Linked DNA regions of Homo sapiens. The protein of the gene in region 1 purifies or fractionates together with the protein of each later gene. This does not show direct contact. Each region holds a gene or a part of one and is shown on either strand. Other genes may lie near its edges.

What was found.
Region 2: the proteins of SMAP2 (region 1) and RBMS1 purify together in Homo sapiens (affinity purification with mass spectrometry, with the first as the bait; one large-scale study listed by BioGRID). This does not show direct contact.
Region 3: the proteins of SMAP2 (region 1) and ZNF143 purify together in Homo sapiens (affinity purification with mass spectrometry, with the first as the bait; one large-scale study listed by BioGRID). This does not show direct contact.

Annotation. Positions count from the first base shown.
Region 1 is NC_000001.11:40,404,670-40,408,326, forward strand, and holds part of SMAP2 (stromal membrane-associated protein 2), read left to right. Parts: intron 1-2,066; coding exon 2,067-2,200; intron 2,201-3,657.
Region 2 is NC_000002.12:160,487,195-160,490,851, reverse strand, and holds part of RBMS1 (RNA-binding motif, single-stranded-interacting protein 1), read left to right. Parts: intron 1-3,657.
Region 3 is NC_000011.10:9,509,414-9,513,070, reverse strand, and holds part of ZNF143 (zinc finger protein 143), read right to left. Parts: intron 624-3,657; coding exon 475-623; intron 1-474. UniProt on the Homo sapiens protein: Transcriptional activator. Activates the gene for selenocysteine tRNA (tRNAsec). Binds to the SPH motif of small nuclear RNA (snRNA) gene promoters. Participates in efficient U6 RNA polymerase III transcription via its interaction with CHD8.

The DNA.
Region 1 (3,657 bases):
GAGCAAAGGAAAAGTGCTTTAAGAAACATGAAATATTAACTTGGTGCCATTTTAAATCTTATATAACTTAGATCTTATTGGAGTTCCTTTATGAAAACTGTAACCTAAAATGGATATACCACATGTTAAGAAACCCCATTTACATCAGTTTAGGGTTTTCATTTTGTGTTTGACGTGACACTCTCCCACATGAAACAAGTGTGCGAATCATTTTTGTGTTTATTAGATACATGGCGGACCAACTATGTAAATCCATCTAGGAATGTGAAGGGACTAAATATCTTTTTAGAAGGTAAATCGGAGCTTGTGATAGCAATAAGGTATTGGGATAAAATTTCAGGCGGAGAGCACCACCTGGTGGTAATAAGGAGAATGTGAGCCTTCTGTTGCAGTATTTGCGATAGTAAATAAGTGATATCTTTGTCAAAAAATTACATTCTTATTTGTAATAATCATGAATTCAAATTTCTAAAACTAATTTTCTGCCACACAATTCTAGCATTCCTTCATTAAAACTGCTGTCAAAACCTTCAGGCTGGCCAGGCACAATGGCTCACACCTGTAATCCCAGCACTTCGGGAGGCCAAAGTGGGAGAATTGTTTGAGGACAGGAGTTCAAGACCAGCCTGGGCAACATAGTGAGACCTAGTCTCTACAGTAAATAAAAATATTAGCCAGGCAGGGTGGCACACGCCTATAGTCCCAGCTACTCCAGAGGCTGAGGCAGGAGGATCGCTTGAGCCCAGGAAGACGAGGCTGCAGTGAGCTATGATCGTGCCACAGCACTCCCTGTCCGGGTGACAGCGAGACTGCCTCTAAAAATAAAAATTAAAAAATTAAAAACCTGCTAGCTAACCAAATAATTGTCTGTGTCCTAAAGAACTGAAGTCTTGTGCTCGTTGTCGTTCCAAGCGTAGGCCCTGTTTATCTCTGTAGAAAATCAGTGTCTTTTCACCTCTTTATTGCATCCTCTAATTTTTATATCACACTTATTTTATGTGGTAAATTTCTGCCAAGTGGGATAATGGAGAAGGAAGTATTTCTGATTTTTTAGTAAGTTTTTGGCAGGTTTCATATAAGTCATTTTTCTTTCCTGGGTAAAAATTATGAAGAGGAGTATGATAATTTTTCAGAGTGATTATTAGGATGAGTAACACTGGCAGGGGATGGGAGATTCTGTAACAGTTTTGAATTAAAATTCATATTTGAGATTTCTTTTTTGTTGCTATAAGCATCTTTATTATTTGGCAATCTTGAAACAAGATACTTCAGTAGTTGAGTAAAGTAGGAACATCAGCCTAAGGGGAAAAGATCCTATTAAGTTAATGCGAATGCATATTTTATAGGCCTGGGGTTGGGGGGAAGATAAACACAGTTTCAATTACAGGTTGAGCCATGGACAAGCATGCCATATCTATCTTTTTTCCTGGTAGGAAAACCGAATACAGGCCACCACTAAAAAGTGGTGAATACAGGCCCATCACCACTAAAACGTCTCTTGGGAGAGGACTGTTTATGTAAGGTGCTCGGCCAAATAGAATATGACATGGCTTTGCACTCCTGGGATTTTTCTTAATATAAGTAACAGTCTTATAACATCTGCGTTTCAACACTCATATTAGCAGACACTGTAAAAAAATTGTACCATGCACAAATGCCCACTTATTATATAATTCTTTTTATATTAAATGCCCAGAATTGGCAATCCATAGAGATAAAAAGTAGATTCATAGTTGCCAGGGGCTGGGAGGAAGAGCTGGGAGAAAATGGGTAGTGCCTGCTAATGGGTTTGTGATTTCTTTTGGACTAATGAAAATGTTCTGGAATTAGATAGTAGTAATCATTGCACAACTGTGTGAATATATTAAAAACCACTGTATTGTACACTTAAATTTAAACTAAAGAAAAGCTGACACATGGAGGAATGAGCAGAGTCAATAAACAGGTGGTTATGGTAAAAATTATTTCACTTATGTTCTAGCAGAAATGTCTGATAATCTAATATTGTAGTTTAGGCCTTGAATGTTGTAATTTGTACTTTATTGCCCTGTTCCTGACTTTCACAGGGCCGCGATGGGCCTCTTGGAACATTGGTGTGTTCATCTGCATTCGATGTGCTGGAATCCACAGGAATCTGGGGGTGCACATATCCAGGGTAAAGTCAGTTAACCTCGACCAGTGGACTCAAGAACAGATTCAGGTACTTAGCCCAAGAGTGAGTCAGCTGCTTCCATATATCTATGTAAAAGGAATTCCAGATGAATTTCAGTCAAACCTGGCACAAAGGTGAAGATAAAGGAAAATTTAGTTGTTAAACACTTAACATCAGATTCTTGTACCCTAACAGAAATTTTTATTCTTTCTATTTAAGATACAAGTTATTCTACCTATATTTTACCTCCTTAAAAACAGAAATAGTCTACGGTCTAGGATTCCATGGGCCCACGAAAGTATTAAGAGGGATCTTTGGGTGATTTTCTAAGACTCTTAGCATTTGCAGGTCTAAAATTTATAGTTTCAAATATTCACTTTTGGTCGGGCACGGTGGCTCATGCCTGTAATCCCAGCACTTTGTAAGGCCGAGGTGGGTGGATCTCTTGAGTCTAGGAGTTCAAGACCAGCCTGGGCAACAGAGTGAGACACCTGTCTCTACAAAATAAAGAATTAAAAAATTAGCTGGGCCTGGTGGTACGTACCTGTAATCCCAGCAGTTTGGGAAGCTGAGGTGGGAGGATTGCTTGAGCCCAGAAGTTGAAGCTGCGGTTAGTCATGATCATGCCATTGCACTCTAGCCTGAGCAATAGAGTGAGACCCTGTCTCAAAAAAATAAATAAATAAAAATTCACTTTTTAAAAAAACCTCCAAATCATAGACTTATGGGAAAATTTTATTACTAAAATGCATACATGAATCTTTTTTTTAAGACAGAGAAAATATTTTAATGGTACATAATATTAAAATGTATCCATTTTTGTAAACTCATCATTTCTGATATTTTTAGACACATACAAATGTGGAATTAGATAACATTTAAAATTTCAAAAATTTTAAATAAATTTAAACATAATTAACCTTAAAAGTATATTAAATAGGACAATGTGTATATTAGATTTATTGTTATCATCTTTAAAAAGCTGTAACAGCTGGAATGCATACATGAATCTTGCATGCTGTTAGCTTGGTGGGCTTGGAGTGAGACTCCTAAGTTAATGAGTCTGGCTGGCCTAAGAGCTGTACCTTGATATAGCTTCATTATTTTTTATTCTCTTCCTACATTGAAACGCTTTAATTTCAATTTTTTCTTTCTTGGGAGTAAAAGGGAAGCCCCCCGCCCCCCAAATCCAGTTGCTAAAGTTGGTAATGGAAATCAGAGGTTACGCTTAACCAGAAAATGGCTTTAGAAATTGCTTTAGATTGTATTTATAGATGTATTAAAGGTCTAAAAAGGTGAGTTACATTTTTCAGTTACACTTCACTCTGTTTTATGAAGGAAATTATATGCCATGGAGATAGTCGGGAATTTGGAGATTTAAAAAGCTCTTGGGATTTATCCCTCACAAGTGTTAAGGAGTCTACTTAAAAGCCTAATGGGAAACACATTTATTGGAATTGATTAATAGTATAAACTCAGAATGATAACACTGATCATTGCCTGCC
Region 2 (3,657 bases), on another chromosome or scaffold:
TTTGGAAGCTATATCAAAAACTGAAGAATGGCATGGTCATCTAAAAAGTGATAGCTAATTTGTACTCAAGAGATAGATGTGATTTTCTCAAATCTAATTCTTTTAATCAGAAGGAACAGATAATACCAGGTAAAATGGAACTTAACAGTTTGTTTTGTTACCATACTTTTAAAAGTTATATATGCCAAACCATTCTTCTTGTTTTAGTGATCCAGTCTATTTTGGTAAACTTATTTTGTAATTTTCCCCATAAAAACATACTAGTTACTTCCACATTTTATTAATAAAAAAATACCATCCGTTGGGCTATATTGGAGCAAATGACCATATTGGTATGCTTTGTACTTTGACAGAAAGAAAAAAAATCATTAGAAAAAGTAATATGTCTCCATGAAATGTAAAATAAACTTGAGTGTACTATGGAAGAGCAGGACATGAGTGGAAATGAATGAGATTGTATAATATTCATAATACCTTGGTGTAGAGTTACATAAATTTCAAGTAACCTGATTTCACATGCTGTTGGTTTTTTGTTTTTTTTTTTTATTTCTCAGTGAGGATGGTCTTATCACAGCAGGTTCTTTTTATCAGCTGACACATTCATTCTGAAATGTAGCTTGATGTAGCTTTATAAACATAACCACATATTGTCCTAAATAATTTTCTCAATTTTAAAATGACCTATGCTGTATTATATTAAATTTAATATCCATCTTTTAGCTACACAGAAAAAAGATGTTGATAATCTAACATATTTTAACTTAAAGATTTGTATGTACACATTTTCAACCAGTGGCTGCATTAATTTCACTTATTGTAAAAGCAACCCTTGAATTATGGTCTGTTTATTTCAAAGATACTACAACATACATTATTGCCAGTGCATGTATGTAAATAGTTATGGGGATTGAAATATTCTGTTTCTTTTGAAGAAAGGGAAGTACAAAATTTTCTTTCCATGATTAGTTAGCTACATATTTTGTACCAACTGAAAGCAATTTGGGACAGTTGTAATCTTTATTCACATAGTTCTAAGAATATATTTCTATAAAATTAATGGAAAGCTTGATTTTTTTAAGTTTTTGTGTATGAAGAAGTATTGTTTTCCATGCTGAAGAAATGTCTATACGAAAGATACGTTTCTTTCTAAAACAAAACAATTTTGTTTTTACGCCATTTTTACATACGCTTATGACACAGAATATATCTGAACCTAGCTTCAGAATCTGAAAATAATAAATGATATAATTTATTCTATTAATAAAGGCTAGTAGAACAAAGCAGTTTTTCTGCATTGAACTTTTGCATGCATTTTTTATTGAATTCCTTAACTCTTACTTACTTCTAGCCAAATGAATATTGTATCAATCTGTTTCTCCAGAAATTAGTAGTCCTGATTTGATACATAAAACTGTTGCATCTAATGAAGTGGAAGTACACAGGCATAATATTCAGACATGGGGCGCTTTGTGTCATAAGAAGTAACCACATTTATGATGTAAATAAAGTTTGCTTAAAATATGTCAGTTTGGTAATGCAGTATTTTACACTGATGAATCAACCTTATTTCCTTAAGTGAGTGGGGTATTATGTATGACTATCTGGAAGTGGTATTGAAAGGCTGAAGGACATGTAACTATTAAAATGAAGATGCATTACAATGCAACAGTGTAGCACCCTTCTCTTCCAACAGCTATTTCTTTTGAATTTCCCATACAACTTTTTGTTTTTTCCCCTATGTTGGGAGCCAAATCTTAAGTTCCTTGAAGGGAAAAGGAAAAGATAGGTGAGCTAGGAAAGTATTCAGTCATTTAGTATCAGTATAACTACATACACCTTACATCTTAGGCAATCTTGGCTTTGAGTTTAAATTCAAATGTGGGGAATTTCCATGTAATATACATTCAAGAAAAGAATTTTTACTAATATATTGCTCTGACTTTGTATTTTTAATAGTTTATTGAAACCATTTCGGCATCTAGCTTTTAAATTGAGACAGTAAAGTTTTATCCTATTTATTGGAATATTATAGAAATAATAGAATATTATAGAAATAGGAGTATGTCAAGTTACTCTCAAGTGGAAGTGTTTTATGCAATCTAAAATAGCTTATTTTAAAGAAATGTAGTAATGACCTGTCAGTTGTTCAAATGCAGCACCATAACATTTGGTATAAAACCAAACCAAATATTCAAAAGTTGAACATCGGCTTGGGGATTTTATGTGGGATGAATTTAAATGTTCTGTTTCCTCTGCTGTTTTATTTATTTATTTTTGAGATGGAGTCTTGCTCTGTTGCCCAGGCTGGAGTGTGGTGGCACGATCTCGGCTCACTACAACCTCTGCCTCCCAGGTTCAAGCAATTCTCCTGCCACAGCCTCCCAAGTAGCTAGGACTACAGGCGCGTGCCACAATTCCTCCCTAATTTTTGTATTTTCAGTAGAGACGGGGTTTCACTACGTTGGCCAGGCTGGTCTTGAACTCCGGACCTCGTGATCCGCCGCCTCAGCCTCCTTTCAAAGTGCTGGGATTACAGGCATGAGCCACTGCGCCCAGCCTCTGCTGTTTTATTTTAATGAATAAATAATGAAACCTGATGGAACTCAGCTGTGCCTCATGAGAGGCAGCAATGGGACGATGGAGGTCTACCATAGGTAGTTTGGTTAGGTGATACAGAGCAAAATGTAATTTTAGAACAAATGGTGTGTGTTGAACACACACACACAAATTTGAGTACATATGCAAATTTGATAATAGAAACAAAGCATTTCTTAGTCTGGTAGATATGAGGTCAATAGAAGAGTGTAGAGAGGATGGTAACAGCTAAGCCAACCACAAACTGAACATATATCTCCCATAATCTAATTCCTCAATGCATCTAGTCTCCTTAACAAAATTATGTGAATATTTTAATTTTTCAAACAAGCCCTGGAAAATAAGCATGTCAAAATGATGAGAGAAAAACAAAAAGGAGAGAGAAAAAATCAACATCTGAACCTCCTAGGGGAGAAAAGTGTATAAAATTAAGCATTGTTATTCTCTCCCCATGTTGTCTCTTAACTAATTCTTAAATGGATGCATTTTAGAAGATTGAGAATATGTTGGACATTGAATATGAAAACCTAGATTCTAAAAGTGAGGTTGGATGCTGATATGAACAGTTAGCTTGCATGTAGATCTGGCACTGTAAACATGCTAAATCAATGTTGGTGGGTGATTTCCTACATTCACTATAATATCTGTGTTTTGGATTAGGTAAAGATTTAAGCTGGTAGTTGTTGTAAAATTGCTGAGGCTCATGATGAAGGACTAAAACACTAGCCAATCAATTGTATTTACTGAGTGACCCCAGTACATCATTCTTTGCACTTGACATTGGGAAAGTTTAAAGAGTTGAATATCTGGTACCTGCTCTCCAGCACCTCACAAGCTACCAGGGAGGACAGAATAGACACAAGGCAAGAAATAAGCACAGAATATTTACAAAGTAGTGCACCCACGAAAGCAGCACACCAGCTGATGTCCTGGGTTTTAGTGACTGAGAAGGCACTAAGATATATGTAGGATTAAACACTTTGCCATGTCTTTTGCAAGAAAGTGAAAAGTGCTAATAAAAGCTACAATAAATCTGGGAATTTTAGAAAGACATAAGGCTTT
Region 3 (3,657 bases), on another chromosome or scaffold:
TTTCCTGGGGGGAAATCAAGATACCTATTCTACCGACTCTGTGAGGCTAGTTGAGTGAACTCTCATGATTCCTGATCTCTTAATGGTGCCATCATATGCTGATCACCTCAGCCAAATCTCTGTTTTCTCAATCTCACCTCCTGCATCTAATCAGCCACCAAATCCTATCCCTTTTCTGATCTGTGTTTCACATGGATCCAGTACTTTTGAAGCCCTGAGCCTCTCTGTGGCTGACCTTTATCATCTCACCTTTGAACTACACCAAGAATACCATTCGGATTCTACAGTCACAAACCTTCTCTCTCTCCTAATCTCTCTGCACGTAGTCTCTGTAAGCAGACTACTGAAAAACCTCAGGGTTTCCAAACTTTGTGCCCTGATATTTCAAAGCTTTCCTCAATGGGGACCCAGCCTGCCTTTCAAGCCCAGGTTCACAGAAAGATTTAATTTGTTTGGCTTTTGGTGGATACTTACATGCTGAGTCCCATCCTGGGATATGAGTGTAACTTGTTGACTCAGTCCAGATTGGGTTACTGTGGCTACTTGTGTAGAAACAACGTCGTCCCCTTCTACACCTGTAACATACGTAATCTGGGACCCTTTAAGAACATCTTCACCTTGACCTGTTTAAAACAAATGAATCATTTATTTGACCAACCAACCAATTTGTTTAGAAAATAGGACATTTTAAATATTAAAGAGAAAATTACATAATTAAAATGTACATGTATTATATTCTAAGTCACGAAAATGGCTTCCAGGACCTCCTTCCAATTCCTCCACCTCCACTTTTGCAAAGGCAAACTACATCAAAGCAGACCAAACAAAAAATCTTTCTGCATCAAATTTAAGTGTTCTGATTTTCAGGGACCTGTTTTATTCTCTTAGTTGGAGTAATTACTTGATACTATATGTGTATTAGGGGCGGAGAGGGGAGGAACTGTACAGGAAAACTAGCAAATAACCCTTCAAATACAGCAAGTATGCACTAAATTCTCGCATTCACTTAAGAGGCTGTTAGGCCAGGCACGGTGGCTCATGCCTGTAATCCCAGGACTTTGGGAGGCTGAGGTGGGTGGATCACGAGGTCAGGAGATCGAGACCATCCTGGCTAACACAGTGAAACCCCGTCTCTACTAAAAATACAAAAAATTAGCTGGTCATGGTGGCGGGCGCCTGTAGTCCCAGCTGCTCGGGAGGCTGAGGCAGGAGAATGGCATGAACCCGGGAGGCAGAGGTTGCAGTGAGCCGAGATCACGCCACTGCAGTCCAGCCTGGGCGACAGAGCAAGACTCCGTCTCAAAAAAAAAAAAAAAAAAAGCTGTTAAAGGCCAGGCACAGTGGCTCACACCTGTAATCCCAGTCAGTACTTTGGGAAGCCAAGGTGGGCAGATCACCTGAGGTTGGGAGTTCGCGACCAGTCTGACCAACATGGAGAAACCACGTCTCTATTAAAAATACAAAACCAAGGCCGGGTATGGTGGCTCACACCTGTAATCCCAGCACTTTGGGAGGCCAAGGCGGGCGGATCATGAGGTCAGGAGATCGAGACCATCCTGGCTAACACGGTGAAACCCATTTCTACTAAAAATACAAAAAAAAAAAAAATAGCCGGGCATGGTGGCAGGCGCCTGTAGTCCCAGCTACTCAGGGGGCTGAGGCAGGAGAATGGTGTGAACCTAGGAGGCGGAGCTTGCAGTGAGCCGAGATTGCACCACTGCACTCCAGCCTGGGCGACAGAGCAAGACTCTGTCTCAATAACAAAAACAAACAAACAAACAAAAACACAAAATTAGGCGGGCCTGGTGGAGCATGCCTGTAATACCAGCTACTCAGGAGGCTGAGGCAGGAGAAATCACTTGAACCCGGGAGGCAGGGCTTGTGGTGAGCCGAGATGGCACCATTGCACTCCAGCCTGGGCAACAAGGGCGAAACTCCGTCTCAAAAAAAAAAAAAAAAAAAAAAAAAGAAGCTGTTAAAAGTGGTTAAGACTATTTTCATTTTCATAAACATTAACCACAAAGCCAGAATGGTTTGCAAACACACCCACTGATACTAAACTTGGTCTTTAGCACAACTGATTGATTGCAAACCATCAGTACACAATGACCTCACTGTGTAAAGACAATGTATGGCATATTATCTGAGGTATGGTTAATAATTTAGTGACATAAAAGGAACCTCCATCACTTCTTTATTTCATAAAGAACCAGTAAGTAAACAGCAATTTCAACAATCCATTACTACTATAATTGTCAACCAGGAAGATTCCTGGTCCCTCTCGTCTTTCATCACTTTCTACCTCCCATGAAGTCAGAAAGAGAGCAAAAAAAAAATGTTTCCCCCTCAAAGGACATAATATGCTAATCTAAGAGTACTTCTCAATTCAGTGGTTAATCCATGCACTCATATGGCTACAGTCATCAACGTGTAATTTCCATGACAGACATTACTTCATTCCTTTTTGTTCTGTTCCACAGCTATTTATATACCATTATTCCAACAGGTTACAAAACCCAGTGGATCATGTGAGAGAAAACAGAAATCCATCCCTATTCTTGGAAAAACAATCTTAGTTTAGTTTTGTTTTTAAATAAAATGTATATTATTATATTATAGACTATTTTCTAGAATATAGGAACTTCTGGGCTGGGTACGGTGGCTCACGCCTGTAATCCCAGCACTTTGGGAGGCCGAGGTGGGCGGATCACGAGGTCAGGAGATCGAGACCATCCTGGCTAACACGGTGAAACCCCGTCTCTATTAAAAACACAAAAAATTAGCCAGGCATGGTGGCGGGCGCCTGTAGTCCCAGCTACTCAGGAAGCTGAGGCAGGAGAATGGAATGAACCCGGGAGGCGAAGCTTGCAGTGAGCCGAGATCGCACCACTGCACTCCAGCCTGGGCAACAGAGCGAGACTCCATCTCAAAAATAAAAAAAAAAAAAAAAGAATATAGGAACTTCTGATAACCTGAAATATCAACATTTAAGGAAGAGACTTGAGGAAGCTTAGAAAAAGAGTCTTGCAAACTTAAGTCTGATATCATTAAAGCCTGCTTTCTAACTAAAAAGACTCAGCAGTTGTTGTAGGATCTTCTTATTTACTTCCTTTCTCTTAGCAATTGTCAAATATACAGTACATTATTATTAACTGTAGTCACATGCTGTGCAGATCTCCAGAACTTATTCCTCCTAACTGAAACTGTACTCTTTGACCAGTATCTCCCCAATTGATGTAATATTTAACCATGCACACTTACAGTGTTCTGGCTAGAAAATAATCACCATGAAGACTGATGGAATTGCTATTAACCTACCACCACCTAACAAATACCTGAAAAGACAAATCAGGACTACAAGGAATCATCTGAGCAGATGATCTGTTCTTTCCCTTACTCTCCAACAAACCTTTTCCACCTAAATGTTTTTCAATGCTTCAATATATGTTGTTAAAAATGAAAAAAGATGTCTTCTCTTAATTTTCAAATTTACTTCATTTAGGAGGTACTCAATGAAACTGTAAGACAACTTGCTTTGTTTTGTGTTTTAGAAAAACCGACTTCCTTTTACCTACTTACCTATGCTTATTTATCTGAAATAATTCAATGTAATTCTCTAAAATATTTTTCCAAGGGTTTACTGAAACAAATAATTTT